Linked DNA regions of Homo sapiens: region 1 is linked to region 2. Evidence: fine-mapped expression QTL. Tissue or cell type: aorta. Region 2 holds a variant in brackets; the other region holds the start of a gene. All regions are shown on one strand. Distances are between the middles of the regions.

Region 1 (8,186 bases), 26 kb after region 2:
ATGATCTATTTCTTTTGATTCTGTCTTATTCATTTCCTCTGCTTATTCCATGTCAGTGAATCTGCTTACTCAATCTTCACACTTTAATGCTTTTAATTTAAAAACTATCATTTGTAATAATTTGGCATTTCTTACATCCATCTAAGAAAATCTGCTTGTTTTCCTTAAAAATCCCTAAATATCTACTAAATACTCTTGTGAATTTTGGTATCTGGTAGCATGCTGTGATGAAAACTATCAGACTGAAAAAACACAAATGCTTTCCTTTTTTAAGGACATGGATTAATTTTGTCTAAAGTAGAAACAAAGTCATTGTGATTAAGTTTAAAGAAAGAGCTCTCTTTGTAGGAGTTAGTGAATCACAATAGCTGGGTTGTGTTGTCCCGCTGAAACTCCCAGGAAAGATCCCAACTAGAAAAGCAAGGTCAATTTATAAAGCTAAGTTTAATTTACATTCTTAGTTCTTAATAGACACTGCAATAATTATCCAAAGATATTAATTCACATGCTATTGGGTATTAGCCATTGGGCAATAATGCCCCAAATTAAGAGACAGGCATCACTCCATCACCAACCACTGAAAACAGATGGGAAAGGAGAAACACAGGAAAAAAAATATATATGTGCATAAAAAACTCTGCGTAAAGTGACAAAATTTACAGGATTAAATTTAATGAATAAAATCCTTTGCTGAAAGGCTTAAAAGAAAAACATAAAAAACGGATCCACCAGCTCAAGAATTATATAACACATTCTATAAATAATTATGTCAAGTTTTCAAATGTTAATTTCAATGGAAAAATAATTTTTTAATAAACTTAAAGTTAAATCTGAAGGAATACTGATGTGACAATCACGCAGAAACATTTGTGGCTATCATTTTATCCTATGTGTACCTTAATGATGATGGGTGAGCAAATTGGGAAACTACAAAGTGTCTTGTGTGGGCTTTGATTTTGTGTAGCCAGCATATGAACTTGTTCATCTAAATGCAGATTAGATAAGCCACCCTCCAGATCAACAATTATGGTGGGTCACACAACAATCACAACCCCTCTTGCTGTAGATCAGGAAAAACAAATCCCCTGGCTTGTATTCTTATTCAAGCATGTACCATACATGTCACACTAGCTTCTGGTAGTGTGATATTTTTGAATTATTTAACAAGCAGCTAGTGTTTATACATTTAGGTAATTTTTAAAGTTCCTTCACAAATTATCTTTTGCTTCTAATTTTGTCTCTAAAATCACAACTAATGACTTTTCATATACGGGTTGTCAGGGATGTACTAGCAACCTGTAGATCTGTTATTAAATAAGATTTAATTGACATAAAATAATAGCAGTCCATAAGACTAAGTGATAAGATACACAGTTGTGTAGTAATGATTTTATATTGGTTATATGACCTTTGCTTCCTTTCAGAGAGAAATTTAAAAAAGGGATTTTTTTGCAAAGACCAAAACGGTTTTATCTGCCATGGTTGAATACCACATTAATAAAAATTAAAAGTATGTACTAAGTAAAATCATCATTTTAGGATAAAATCGTGATAGGCTTCCTTGGGACAATGCTATTACATTATCATACCCCGACAACATGCAATCAACTTAGTCTCTAGTCATCATGGAAAAAACTTTGATCTCACTTCTTCATCTTGATAAATATTCCCAAGAGCTTCTCTTATAGCTATTTGGTCATTGATGAAGATTTTTTTTTTTTAAAGACACACAAGAAAATACAGGCTGGGTTTTTGGTGGGGAGGTGTAGATTTGGTAAGAGGATTGAACTAAACAAACGATTTTAAAATTAAGGTGCTATGTACTTAATGCCACTGAATCGTATACTTAAAATGGTAAATTTTATGTTATGTGTATTGTGTGATACCTAAAAAAATTAATTTAAAAAGTAAAATTGCTCTGTTTAGGATAAAATATTATTGTGTACCAAAGAAATTTTATATAAAAACAAGCAGTCTTTACCCCAGCATACTGTGAAGCTGAAGTACATGTAATTGCCGTTTTTGTAGGTTTAAAATGGTTGACTATCAGCAATTTCATATGGTTCAGCCTGTATCTTTATAAATAAAACGAAGTTTTGTCCCCGTACTGGCGAATTACTCTTTAGTGACTATCAGTGGACGCAAGGGCTGTGAGAAATAACCTTAGCATGATGGCTTTTTATATTAGAGCCACTGCGGTTACAGAATATGTTTTTGGGCATTTATGACAGTCTATGACTTTGAGTGAGGGAAAATTACAATGCAGTGAGATCCATTAACCTAACAGTGGCTGAGCCGATTCTATGGGACATCAAACTTGAAATCAGTCATTATTTAGAAAAAAGAGATTAATTTTAGTTCCTTTCTGCCATTTTCTTACTGCAAAAACACTTTATTCTCCAAAAAACCATTCTGTATATGAAAATTGTGGTACGTTCTAAGATTCTCTTTAAGAAATAGGACCTTTATCAATTTTCTTCCCCCCAGTCTCCAAGTCATAATTAGCAGAAGATCCCCCGCCCTGCCTTTCCATCAGCACTGGGTGACAGAGCTGATGTCCCCTCTCTGAAGCTCCAACTGTAAATGATTATTACATGTCGTAGTCAGGGCCTGATACAAGAAAGAGCAATCATATTAGAATAAGAAAATTAGAGAATGCCCAAATCACTACAGCATTAGCGGAACCAAAGCAGAATTAACATGCATGCCCCTCCAGTTCCTCCTCAGCATTAGCAGAAAACTACACATTCCACGTTCCTGGAATATAACATGCAGGACACAAGACCTAAGTTACGATTAATTATATTAATAAAAAAAGACAGTTTCCCCAATGCATCAGCCCAAGGTGACAAACTATAGACATCCCTCTATGAAATATCACGTCGGTAGAAAGATTTGGAACAGGAATGGATTGAAGAAAGGCTGCTCTATTAACTTAACATCAGCCCACAGGAAAAAAATCAACCCTGAAAGCAAGACCATGCCATAGGGATTGTCTCAGAGCCATTTTAAAAGAGAGACAAAACCCAGCTAACCCTTTTTAAGCACCCCCCAGTGAAAAGCTTTAAACAGGCTATTGTCAGAGCGCTGGGTACCTTTTCTCTCTTGGCTTTGTTCAGTATTTTCCTCGGCTGCAGTTTCCATGGCTGGCTTCATACCATCCACCAAAAATGCTTTTCCCCCTGTTCCCCCCAACACACACTTGTTTTTCCTCCTCTTCCTTTTCTTTTGGACTCCCCTCCGTCTCTTATTTACACCCGTCTGATTGAGAGGCTCTGTTCTTCACTACAGTAGATTACAGTCCCTTCCAAGATGCAAAAGTCTTGTCAGCGTCAATTTCGCTCTGCCTACTGGTCCATAAAGACAGCTGCCAAGGGGCAGGCAGCCATACGTCACCGAGGATCCCAGTTAGAAAACAGCCATTCGGCGCCCGGTGGTGCCTACAGTCTCAATGCGGCTCCAGTGGGAGTTGGGGGTAGGGGGGTGGGGGAGAAGGACCTGCTCCCCACCGGGCTCTTCCTCCTTGCTCTCTTTCTTAAGATCTCAATCTCGATCTCTCTCTCTCTCTCTCTTTCTCCCCACCTCATTTCTTCTAGCCAAGTACACCCAATGAATGCTAATTAATTCTCCCAGGAAAAAATAGATTTGTGACATCAGAGGAGGGGATGTGAAGGAGAAAGAAAAGAGCCCCCTCCCACCACGTGACTTTGTTGGTCGACAGCAATATATGTCGTCTCTAAGGAGAATGCATGTCTTTGCATAGGCATGACACTTTCTTTCCTGTGTGGTCCATTTATGATGTATCAGTTTATTTCATTTACCCCTCGACCCTGGCAAAACATATTCAAAGGACGTGCCCATAGTCTCTATTTACTTTCTTAAATATTTGTCTTTCATACAATTTCTAGATAAGTACATTGCTTTTTAAAAATATAAATTAAAGAGGGGGAGAAAATACATTAGAGGGAAGAAAACTCAAACACGGATTTAACGATAGCAATGTAGCAATTTGTTATTAGAACCCACTCCCTTGTCTATAGTTAATATATATGATAGTAAGAGAAACTCAAGCCTAATTTGTAAAAAGGCACCCTTCCTTATTTAAAAATAAGCATAACATGTTCACAAGTATATCGAGCTGACATTTTGGTAGTTTCTTGGAATGAAAATCAAAATAGTTTTTTAATCGGATATGGTTATTTCTACATGGAGTTTTACTCATTAGAATTCCTCACTCCAAATCGAAGGGGTGTTTTCAAGAGCTCTCTAAATATTCAACATAAAGGCTAGTATACCAATAATGATTTGCCTTCTTGCATACCCAGATACCATGAGGCCAACATTCTCAACCCATACCAACATATAAGCCTTTATCATGATTATGAGCCATGTTTCCAAGCATCACTAATTTCTGCACCATTTTTTATGCATTTGGCTGACCAACTGGCCTTCGCCGTCCCTATAAAAAATTAGAGAGACTCAAGTCAAATACAGGGATGACCACTGATAGGATTCCCAGATCATGAATAGTCTGCTAGTTGGTTGGGCTTAACACTTATCTTGGAAGCAAACATAAAGACAAGTTGGAGACCACCCTCTCCTAAAATCACTCTCCTAAGTTTTGATGGTTTCTTGCTCAACTCCTTGAAAAAAAAGTATAAGGTACTGAATCAAAATCTTCTAAAAACCTGATCTTTTAATACCTTGGTTTTAGATAATCCCTCAAACCTTCTTATATTTAGAACTTCTAGATGTGTTACAGTCGAGAAGATTTTGAAAACCAGTTTAGCTTGTTTCAACGTTTAATTTTACATCTTGCTTTTCCCTTTACCATTGTCTTAGAAGACCACGCCCACAATCAAATATGTATTCCCTCAAATTAAGGCCCCAGCCAATTTTATTGTCTCCTGGTCAGGGGATTGAGAAGTATGGCAGCCTAAAACCACAGACTTTAGAAAAAAGATTCGTTTGTGATATAATTATTTCCATGGGAAAACCCTATGGTGTGTCCGGATAGGACAGTCTTAGACATTTTTTGCAAAGACTACTTAGGTCCATTCAAATATAGAAAGGTGGCAAGTGTTGGTATGTAACAGGCTTGCTTTCCCAGCAGTTCAAATGAGAATTAAAACCAAAACAAAATTCAATTCAGCACAAAAGAGGACACTGTGATTAGCTGTTATTGGTTTTTAAAGTGTCCAGCAAAAACATCTGATTATAGAACCAGCAGATCCTAATAATTTTTTGGCTGTTGCTTAAGAATATTATTTTAATAGTGATGCTGGTGAAAAGGCAGAATATGAAAGACATTCTTAATTTAAGAACAACTCTAGTTCTATATCGAGATCAAAACCATTAGACAAAATATTCACACATCCTCCAGTTGATACCTGCATCTACTTTCCACCTGAAAAACTACATGGAAATGAGCAATTCATCACTTTTGCCTGATTCACAACTTCATCATTTTCTTTTCACTAGGATAATGTATTACAATTCTAGAAATTACCATTATATCACTTTATAACAGCCTCAAGATCTCACTGATGTTTATGATAAACCATTTGAAAAACAATTGTCAAGAGGAAGAGAGAAGAGTATTGCTTATTACATTTCTGAGATATGCATCCATTTTTGGCCAGAAAAGTTCTATATGTAGAAGTAGGATGGAAAATGTCTTCCAGAGCTGAAAATATTTCTTTGAGCCCCATGCTCTAAGGCAGTCTGGTTGAAGGTAAGAACACTTCTGAAAGCCAAAACAGGAATACAAAATACTGAACAAAACAGATTAGAATAAACATATGAAATTGCTGATATTGACCAAGAAGAACAGCAGTTTCACGTGGTTTGACTTATATGTTTGTAAGTCTTCTGTATAATTGCAGCCAGCTCAGTAAACATGCATGAAGTAACCTCCCTAGTGCCAACATCTACAAGCAGCACAGACATGCACAAGTGACGATGCCTGTCTCCAGGTAACCCACGGCTAATGGGACACAGAAAACTCTTCTAAAACAGGGTGCTCCTGCCTGCCACAAGCACTATGGCATCACAACAAAGAAAATGGATGGAGGGGGAAGAGAATTTGAAAAAAGCTTTGCAGAGTTGAGTTGGCTATTGCAGTAATGCTTAGAAACCTGCTGGGTAGGGTAGGGAAGGGAAAAGCAGGAAAGAGGAACGGAAAGAGTTCTAGGAAAAACTGAAGGGCATATGAGAGGAAAAAGAGGGTACTGTCAAAGGGTCAGGAAGTGATTTTTCTGACAGAGGGACTGAAGGGAGATGGCTGAGCCAGTAGGTTGGGAACCAGGTAGGTTGAACACCTTGCTAGCCCTAGAGGCAGTAGGTAGAGATAGAAGGCTCAAGAGCAGAGCTGATCGTGCTTTACAAAGGTCATTCTATTGGTAACGTGGAAGACAGGGTGGGTGGAGTATGAGACTAGAGGCTGGCAAACTAGTCAGGAGTCTCCTGCAACAGTACCAGTAAGAGATAGTGTGAACCTGAACTATGGCACGGGGAGGAAGTGAGGACCCAGATGTCATTGGATTGGATCTGTATGAGTAGGGGTGGAGGAGGATTTGAAGGGGAGGCTAGAGTTTCTAGCTTGGGTGAGTGAGGAGATGGTCATGCTGGGAACCAATATGGGGAACCAAAGAGAAGGAAGAAGTTTGGTAGGGGAGATTATCAAGCGTGGTTGAAGGTGCTCTTAGGACATCCTGCAGGGACTAAGAGGCATTCAGGAATATGGCTCCAGAAGAGAGGAGCTGGCCAGAGAGCAGCATCCGGGAGTCTTCAGTGTGGAGGCAGCCCTGGGAGTACAAGAAGCCCAGTTCTGCTCAAATGCCATCTTCTCAGGGGACTCTCCCTGACTCTTGTCTAAAATAGCAGCCCTGACATTCCTGGTCCCCTTAATCTGGATTTGAGTTTCATCATAGCTTTAACCACGACTCAACACTGTTATTCACTTATTTGTTCATCACTTCCCATCCTCCTAGAATACAGGCTCCTTAAAGGCAGAAATTGTTGTCTTATTCTCCACTGTATTCTAAGAGCTCTTGGAACACTTCTGGGCACATAGCGGGTTCTCAACAAAATCTATTTTAAATCAATGTTAAACAACCAGGGAGAGATACAGATTTCAAGTATGCCAAGATTAGAGCTTAGGGTACACTACCTTTTAAATGTAAAGGTAAAGGAAAAACTTTAAAAAGAGGGTAAAAGAAACAAAGAAGGACAAATTAGAAAACGAGGGAAATAAGACCAAAGTGGAATCATGAAATTCGAGAAAGGTTCTGTGAAGGGCATCAAGTTAACAGTGTAGAATAGTGTCAAATACCATAAAAGGAGGAAAAAGGATGAGGACTAGCAAGCAGAAAGGAGTTTTACCACCAAATAGCCTTTGGAACTTCTGTGAGAAGGCTGAATGATGGGGAAGGATATAACACTTCCCAGTCTCTTTCACGATCACCCTCAAAATAGGAGGCTCCCAAGGTCCAGTTGACATGTTAAACTCATACATAGGGCTTTGGCTGATGCCTGTACATCTTGGCCCTGTTTTTAACCTGGCAAGATCATATTGGATTTTTCTTCTGTGATCTATTACATTAATGATCTTCCCAGATTTGTTCTGTTTCCAAGTATAGTAAATATGCTTTGTGTGTCTGGGATTCAAATCATTGATAGAAATGTTGAACACAACAAGACCAAGGTGAGGGAATCCCATGTAGACCTCTATGGACATCGTCCTGGTCAGTTGGCTGGTTCATTCTTTCATTTCTTTGTTCATTCATTCGTTTATTCATCCAAGATTCATTAAGCACTTATTAAAGGCCAGAAATCAAATCACTTTTTTTTTCTTTTTCTTTTTTGAGACGGAGTTTTGCTCTTGTTGCCTAGGCTGGAGTGCAATGGCGTGATCTCGGCTCACTGCAACCTCCGCCTCCCGGGTTCAAGTGATTCTCCTGCCTCAGCCTCCCAAGTAGCTGGGATTACAGGCATGCACCACCACCCTGGCTAATTTTGTACTTTTAGTAGAGACGGCGTTTCTCCACGTTGGTCAGGCTGGTCTTGAGCTCCTGACCTCAGGTGATCTGCCTGCCTCAGCCTCCCAAAGTGCTGGGATTACAGGCATGAGCCATCGTGCCTGACCCGAATCACTATTCTATGCTAATATGACTATGACTGTTCAG
Region 2 (8,186 bases):
GGGAATCGCTTGAACCCAGGAGGAAGAGGTTGCGGTGAGCCGAGATTGCGCCACTGAACTTCCAGCCTGGGCGACAGAGCAAGACTCCGTCTCAAAAAAAGAAAAAGGGAACCAGTGCACAATATGGTTCAAGTTCACTAGCAAGTCAGTATCTTAAAGAGCTTCAGACACTTGGGATTTGTGAGCAGAGATGTTAGAGCTCAATCTTATTTTGTCACATGACTTTCTGGGGACTGAGGTGAGAGGAATGCAACTCAAAGTCCAAATTCTCTCCAGGTTCCCAAACTAAGAGAAACTAGAATCCTTGGCCTTGACGTATCTCATTATAAAGAGAAAACAGACATGGGTATTGTATCATCCACAACCTCCCCACATTCTCAGCCTCTATGATCATGTTAAGAAAAAGATGAATGCCTGCTTTCCTGGCTAACAAAGTTGTATCTGGTTCTTAAAGGATAAAGATGTGAGGCCTTGGGGCTGTGTGGTCCAAAATGGTAGCCACTAAGACATGTAGCTATTTACGTTTATTTAAAATTAAATAAAATGAAAATTTCAGGTCCTCTGTTGCACAAACCACATTTCATATGCTCAAAAGCCACATGGACTAGTGGCTACCGTATTGGACAACACAGATATAGGACATTTCATCATCACAGAACACACTGCTTTGGAAGATACATTTTGAATTGTCACATATTTGATTTTCTATAACCCAGGAGCTGGGTTCTAACTGGGTTTTCTGTTGGATTTCATTAATTCAGTATTTTGTGAAGACCTACTGGGTGCCAAGTACACAAAACTGAAATAAGATACCTTTCTGGCTTCAAGATAAATCCAATACTGCAGGCAGACAAGTAACACAATTATTATAGTCCAGCATGATGGGGGCAAAGATACAGACCCCTGCAGAGCCAGTGGAAAGAGAGTGGAGAGAAGGGGGACAGGGAAGATCAGAAGGGCAAATAATTCATACTGGATGGGTCCTTCTACAGAAAGATCTAGTATCCAGAATACTTAAACAGCTGATGTGGTGACACTGATATATAACCAGATAAAATTGTTCATTAATTCTCTGTGTGTATATATAGATGTATACATCTATATATATTTTTAAACTAAACCCACACCCTTTTTCATCATTTGGAGTTAGGGTTAGGTGTTATGGTGCAGCACACTCGCCCTTTAACGATAGAACTCATCCTTCCAAATCCACAGTTGCCACTTCAAACGGTCTTTCATCCAAATGGTTAGAGCATTCCAAAGAAATATCACAGCTCTCCCAGGCTCAAAAAGCCAAGTGGGGTTAGAAGAATGATGCTGTTCAATCCCAAATTCAATACTAGATCAAAGCTAAAGTTTCCCTCCAATTTATATCTCTCAAGGACTCTGTATATACCTCATGCTGTGGATCTAGTTTTATAACAGCAGGGAAAACCAGGAACTCAAGAATTTGGGGGATCACTTCAATGAATCATGCTCTCTCAGCAGATGCCAATGCTCTTAGGTTTTCAGCAGATGATTTTATTTGTGGCTGTAGGAACCCTGGCTCCTATAGAACAGAAATCACCATCTTTGCTCCACTGGCACAGATAAAACTCTTACGGACTGTGCCAGCCAACATGACTAGAAGCTAGTGACATAAAATATGGGAAAAATTTATAGGACATAATACAGCTGGATGTAGAGCTTATTCTAGCTTGGTTGACCAGTTATCTTCAGGGTTAAGATTGCATGTGTGGTAGATATCCAACAATCTATAAATGGATCACTCTCCACTGTATCTTCTATGTCAGTATAGAAGCCACCTCTGGTCACAGTGTGCATGATATCTTTGAACACTGGGCAATTTAGTCACATATCACACACTCATCCTAGAGGAACCAAAACTGCTGCAAAAAGTTAGTAAGAAAAAGCTAAATGTGTTTATTTAGGAGCTAGAGGATATAGGTAATATAGGAGCTAGACCACCTAGGGCTTTCCAGGCCACCTTAAGAATTCTGGACTTTATCTTCAAAATCATGGGAAGCCTTGACCAGGCGCCGTGGCTCACGCCTGTAATCCCAGCACTTTGGGAGGCCAAGACGGGCGGATCACGAGGTCAGGAGATCGAGACCATCCTGGCTAACACGGTGAAACCCCGTCTCTACTAAAAATACAAAAAATTAGCTGGGCGTGGTGGTGGGCGCCTGTAGTCCCAGCTACTCGGGAGGCTGAGGCAGGAGAATGGCGTGAACCCGGAAGGCGGAGGGTGCAGTGAGCCGAGATTGCACCACTGCACTCCAGCCTGGGTGACAGAGCAAGACTCCATCTCAAAACAAAAACAAAAACAAAAACAAAAAGACAAAAAAAACAAAATCATGGGAAGCCACTGCGTTTTTTTTTTGTTTTGTTTTGTTTTTTGAAACAGGGTCTTGCTCTGTTGCCTAGGTTGGAGTGCAGTGGCACAATCACTGCTCACTGCGGTGTTGAACTCTCTGGCTCAAGCGATCCTCCCACCTCAGCCTCCCAAGTAGCTGGGACCACAGGCCCATGCCACTGCACCCAGCTCATTTTTTATTTTTTAATTTTTTTGTAGTGACAGGGTCTCCTTATGTTACCCAGGCTGTTCTCAAACTCTTGGGCTCAAGTGATCCTCCCGCCTCGGCCTCCCAAAGTGCTGCAATTACAGGTGTGAGCCACCATGCCTGGTCTGCCAGGGAGCATTTTTAAGCATGGGAAACAGATTGGGGTTGTGAAAGATCACTCTGGATGATGTGAAGGGATATATGGATCTGTAGCTGAGAAGAGCTGAACTTGGATGCTGGCAGCTTCTACTGGGCAACAAGGAAAACTATCAGAGGTCAAGAAAAGATATGAGTGGACCATTTGTCATTTGTCAATTCCATGTGCTTTGCAAAGTGTGTTCATTGGACCAGCAGTGTCAGCTTCAGCAGGGAGGAACTTGTGAGAAATAAAGAATGTTGGAAGTGACCCCAGACTGAGTCAGAATCTGCATTTTAACAAGGCCTCTGGGGTGATTTGTGTGCACATGAAAATTTGAGAAGCCCATTTCTAGTCAACAGTGGCATCTTCCCGGTCTCAGGTGTGGCATCCTGAGTCTGTTTGAAGTGCCTGCTTTCATATTCGATGGTGTGTGATGTTTTTTCTCTAAGACGTGGCCCACTGGGTTTGGCCATAACCCTCCAGTCACTTGTGAATCAAATGGCAAGTTCCAAGGACTACAGTTAAGAAAAACAAAATGTTCCAAGTTGTCCAGCC[A/G]TCTTGAAAAGAGTGCAGCTAGAGTGCATTTTTGTGAGCCAAACAAGTACTGTTAACCTTGGAATTTTTCATGCTTTAGTGTCATGCCATAGACAGGGTCTGAGAAGACGGGAATTGAGTCACCTGAGAAAGCAGATTTCTAAACACACACACTCCAACCACCCCCTAAAGTGCTGGGAGTGCCTGTGCACAAAAAGGAAGTAGATCTGGGATTCAGGCTGTCCTTAGTAGTCATAGGCAAGCTGATGTTTTTAAATATAGGGGTGGTGCCAAGTACCAGCAGAACACCATGCTGTTAAAAGTTTACGATAGCTAAGGAAGATCAGTGCTTTTCTTGGATGCTCCTATAAATCCACAGACTGAATTTTCCCAAGCTTCAAACCAGCAATGACAACATTGGGTAACGTGAACGAGAAAAAATAAGGAAAGCATTTTTTTGATGACTGTGATGTATTCATGTAAAAAAATAATAATCAATGCCAGGTTTTTTTTTTTTCTTTCTTTCCTGAGAAAGAGTCTCACTCTATTGCCCAGGCTGGAGTGAGTGGTGTGATCTCCGCTCACTGCAGCCTCAACCTCCTGGGTTCAAGTGAGTCTTATGCCTCAGCCTCCCTAGTAGCTGGCATTACAGGCACATGCCACCACATCCAGCTAATTTTTTGTATTTTTAGTACAGACGGGGTCTTGCCATGTTGGCCAGGCTAGAATGCCAGGCTTTCTAGCACATTTTACTAGTAATTCTCAATACCTCTCACCAAACCCTAAAAGCCTCTGTTGGGCTGTCTTATGCCTTCATTTAGCTGGCCTCTGGATAAAAAGAATTTTAGGTTTTGATTCACACAAAAATTACAGTGTACATTAGCCTAAGACAGTTTAAATATAAGCCATGTAGTAGGGAAAAAAAAAATACACATCAATGCCTTTAAGTCTCAAAGGCTATTTTGTCTCCAGTATCCCTAGAACCTTTTGTGCAGAACAACAGAATAAAACACCTTTTGTCCTCAGGCTTGTGGATGGCCGTTGCCATGGCTGTGAGTTCATAATGGCCAAGTGATTTGCCCAAGTTGTCTGTGATCTTGGCTGCAGATTTAATGCTGGCTCAGACGTAGGGCTGGCAGGAACAAGGGCTCAGATTCTTCCCCAGGGAATGAATGTCACACATACATACACACACACACACACCCTCCCAAACACCCCCCAACAAACACCACACAAAAAAACCACCCCCTTACCTCTCTACATGGGGCCTTCCTTGCTATATTACTGATTCCTAATGAGCCACAAAATTAAAAAGAAAAGATGCAGGAACCAAGCTTTACAACTTTCAAGCAACAAGCAATGGGAAAATGGAGAGGGCGAAAATCCTAAGAGAAGCAGCAGTGAATGTCAGTGGACAGAAGCTTCCCTGATTCTGAGCTGGCCAAGCAATTCTCAACAGGGGGTGACTGTGCCCCTCAGGGGACATTTGGCAATATCTGGAGATATTTTTCGTTGCCAAAGCTGGGGGAGAGGGTGCTTCTGGCATCTAGTGAGTAGAGACCAGGGATGCTGCTCAACACCCACAGTGTACAGAATATGCTCTTATAACAAAGAATTACCCAGCCCCAGATGTCAATAGCTCCAATGTGGAGATTCTCTGAAGTAGCACAAAAAACATCTACATCGTTTAGACCACTGGTTCCTAATCCAGGCAATTTTGCCACCCAGGGACATTTAGCGGTGTCTGGAGACAGTTTTGGTTGTTACAACTGAGGGTGGGGGACACTACTGGCATCTAGTGGGTAGAGGCCAGGGATGCTCCTAAACCTCCTAGAATACACAGGACAGCCCCCATCCCCAAATAAAGAATGGTCACACCCAAAATGCCAATAGTGCTATAAACCAAAAATAAAACTCTGGGCCGGGCGGGGTGGCTCACGCCTGTAATCCCAGCACTTTGGGAGACCAGGGCAGGCAGATCACGAGGTCAGGAGATCGACACCATCCCAGCCAACATGGTGAAACCCCGTCTCTACTAAAAACACAAAAATTAGCTGGGTGTGGTGGCGCATGCCTGTAATCCCAGCTACTTGGGAGGCTGAGGCAGGAGAATCGCTTGAACCAGGGAGTTGGAGGTGGCAGTGAGCTGAGATTGTGCCACTGCACTCCAGCCTGGCGACAGAGCGAGACTCCGTTTAAAAAAAAAAAAAAAAAAAAATTCTAAGCACCCCCCACCCCACCCCCAACCATCTGAATAGATTCCTGGTCTCTGCCAGGGGGATTCCAAAGTTAGCCTGAAAAAACTAGTTCAGGCCATGATTGGAAGGGAGAGTCAAACATACCTCATTATACCCTCCTCCCTTCTGGAATTCAGGAAAAGCCAACCAGCATTAACATCAACAGACCTTAAATCTGCTAAGAGACATTTACAATCTATTCTCTCTGAAGCCTGCTACCTGGAGGCTTCACCTACAGGATAAAACTTTGCTCTCCACAACCCCTTATCATCATAACCCAGACATTCCTTTCTATGGATTCCAGGTCTTTACATAATTTTTAAATCTTCCTATAACCTGCAAGCCACCCTCTGACCCCCTTTGAGTTGTCCTGCCTTTCCAGATTGAACCAATGTACATCTCACAGGTATTGATTGATGTCTCATGTCTCCCTAAAAGGTATAAAAGTAAGCTGTGCCCCGTCCACCTTAGGCACATGTTATTAGGATCTCCCGAGGCTGTGTCACAGGTTCTTAAGCTTGCTAAAATTAACTTTCTAAATTGATTGAGACCTATCTCAGATAGCTTTGGGTTCACAGTGCCAAGAGTGAGAAACCCTGCTCTAAGGTTACAATACATAATTCTGGTCTCAGACATTTGGTGACACTGCCAAATTCTAAAATCTTAAAAAGAAATGCTTAAAAGAAAACTAACTTTCTTGGAAAACATTATAGAGCAGAGGTTCTCCATTTTTCCTACACATTGGAATAATCTGGGGAGCATCTGAAAATCCTGATGCCCTGGCTTCACCCCAGACCAATTTTATCAGAATTTATTGGGGACGGGACTCAGGAATTAGAGGGTTGGGGTTTGTTTTTTTGAAGCTCCCCCGGTAACTTCAATGAGCACTCAGTGTTATATAGCACAGGTCAGCAAACTGTGGCCCACCAGCTAAATCTGGCTCTCCTCATGGCCTGCAAACTCAGAATGATTTTGACATGATTCCAAGTGGTTACTTTTTTAACCGCTTAGAATATATTAAAAAACCTATTTTGTGACACATGAAAGGTACACAAAATTCAAATTTCTGTGTCTATAAATAAAGTTGTATTGGCACACAGCCACGCTCATTCATTTACATATGGTCTATGGCTACTTTCAAGCTACAAAGGCAGGGTTGAGTTGTTGCCACAGGTATTTACTATGTGGCCCTTTAAAGGAAAGTTTTGCAGACCTCTGTTAAAGAGCAGTGGTTCTCTCTCTCTCTCTCTTTTTTTTTTTTTTCCCAGATACAATCTCACTCTGTTACCCAGGTTCAAGTGCAGCAGTGCAATCTCAGCTCTCTGCAACTTCTGCCTCCTGGGCTCAAGCCATCCTCCTGCCTCAGCCTCCCAAATAGCTGGGACTACAGGAAAACTTTAACCTGCGTATAAATCTCCTCGGGACTTCATTAAAACGCAGATTCTGTTCAGGCAGGTCTGGAAAGGACATTGAGCTCCCAAGAGATTCTATCCTGCCTGCCCACCAGTCTCACTCTGAGCCAGGAGTGGGCCCTCAAAGACGGTCTGTGCAGCCCCGGCAGACCTCAAGATCCTTGCAGGAGGACTGTGAAGCCAAAACTTTTTATAATAGCACCAAGATGTTATTTACTTTTTTCACTGCTTGACATTTGCACAGTAAAACTGCTGATGCCTGAGCGTGAATCGGGCAGTGGCTCCATAGTGTACTTAGCAGGAACACATTCCTCACTACCACGCGCTCGCAAGAAAATAAATTAAAAAGCCAGTTTCACTTCCAAATGTCCTCGATGCAATAAAAAATTATTAATTTGATTAAATCTCAACCCCCGAGTATGTGCCTTTCGAACAGTTTGTGTAATGAAATGAGTGAGAGGATGCAGAGAGCCCTTCTACCACAAACCAGCGTGTGACAGTGGGCTGCAGGAAACATTCTTATGTAACTGAGTTATGAGCCAAACTTGTACCTTTCTGGGGGCAAACACCCCCTTTCTTGAAAGAATGCCTGACAAGATATAGTTTTTTAGACTTAAGTATTTGGCAGAAACTTTCCCAAAAATGAACAGCTTGTCACTTCAAAGAAAACAACTGATAGTATCTGTTGCCAATCAATTTTGGAAAACTTGTACCTGCCATAGTGAGACTGACAGCTTCCAAATACTTACCAGACTTCTTGATGAAATTGGTGGTGACATTAACCAATGAAATTTTTTTGACATGGTTTAATTAAATGTGTCAACGTCTGGAAGATCTGCACAACTCAGAGAACCAATATTTTCCAAATAGCCAAGGGAAAATAATTCTTGAATATAAGAGTCAATCAAAGTGCAAGATCAAGCAATGAATTTTAGTGGAAAAGAGTACAAAAATATCATCAATATGGTTTCAGATTCCACATTACAAGTAGTCTTTAAGAAACCACTAGCTGCTGAATTTTGGTGTAGTATCAAGGAAGAATTTCATAATTATCTGCAAAGGCCATTAAAACACTCCTCCATTCTCCAAGCACATACCTGTGAGAAATTTGAGTTTTCTTCATATACTTCAACCAAAGCAAGATACCCCAAGATGCCTCTGAATGAATGCAGAGGCAGATGTAAGAGTCCAGCTGTCTACTGTTAAGCCAGATATTAAAGAGATTTGCAAAAATGTAAAACAGTCCTATTCCTCACACTAAAATATTATTTTCTTTTTGAAAATCGTTATCTTTCCTAAA

What was found. PIP is the estimated chance that this variant, and not a neighbour inherited with it, causes the effect.
Region 1: it holds the start of GPM6B, and the variant in region 2 is fine-mapped to the expression of GPM6B in aorta (GTEx, PIP 0.99).

What each region holds. Positions count from the first base shown.
Region 1 is chrX:13,813,749-13,821,934 of GRCh38, forward strand. GPM6B (glycoprotein M6B) reads right to left here and starts at 3,345. Exons shown (of 8, transcript NM_001001995.3): 1 at 3,096-3,345. The coding sequence starts at 3,156.
Region 2 is chrX:13,787,464-13,795,649 of GRCh38, forward strand. All of the region lies in intron 2 of GPM6B (glycoprotein M6B), which reads right to left. Among named protein-coding and RNA genes, the nearest start is that of GPM6B, 26 kb to the right of the region's middle. The variant A/G (reference allele first, on the strand shown) is at 3,259.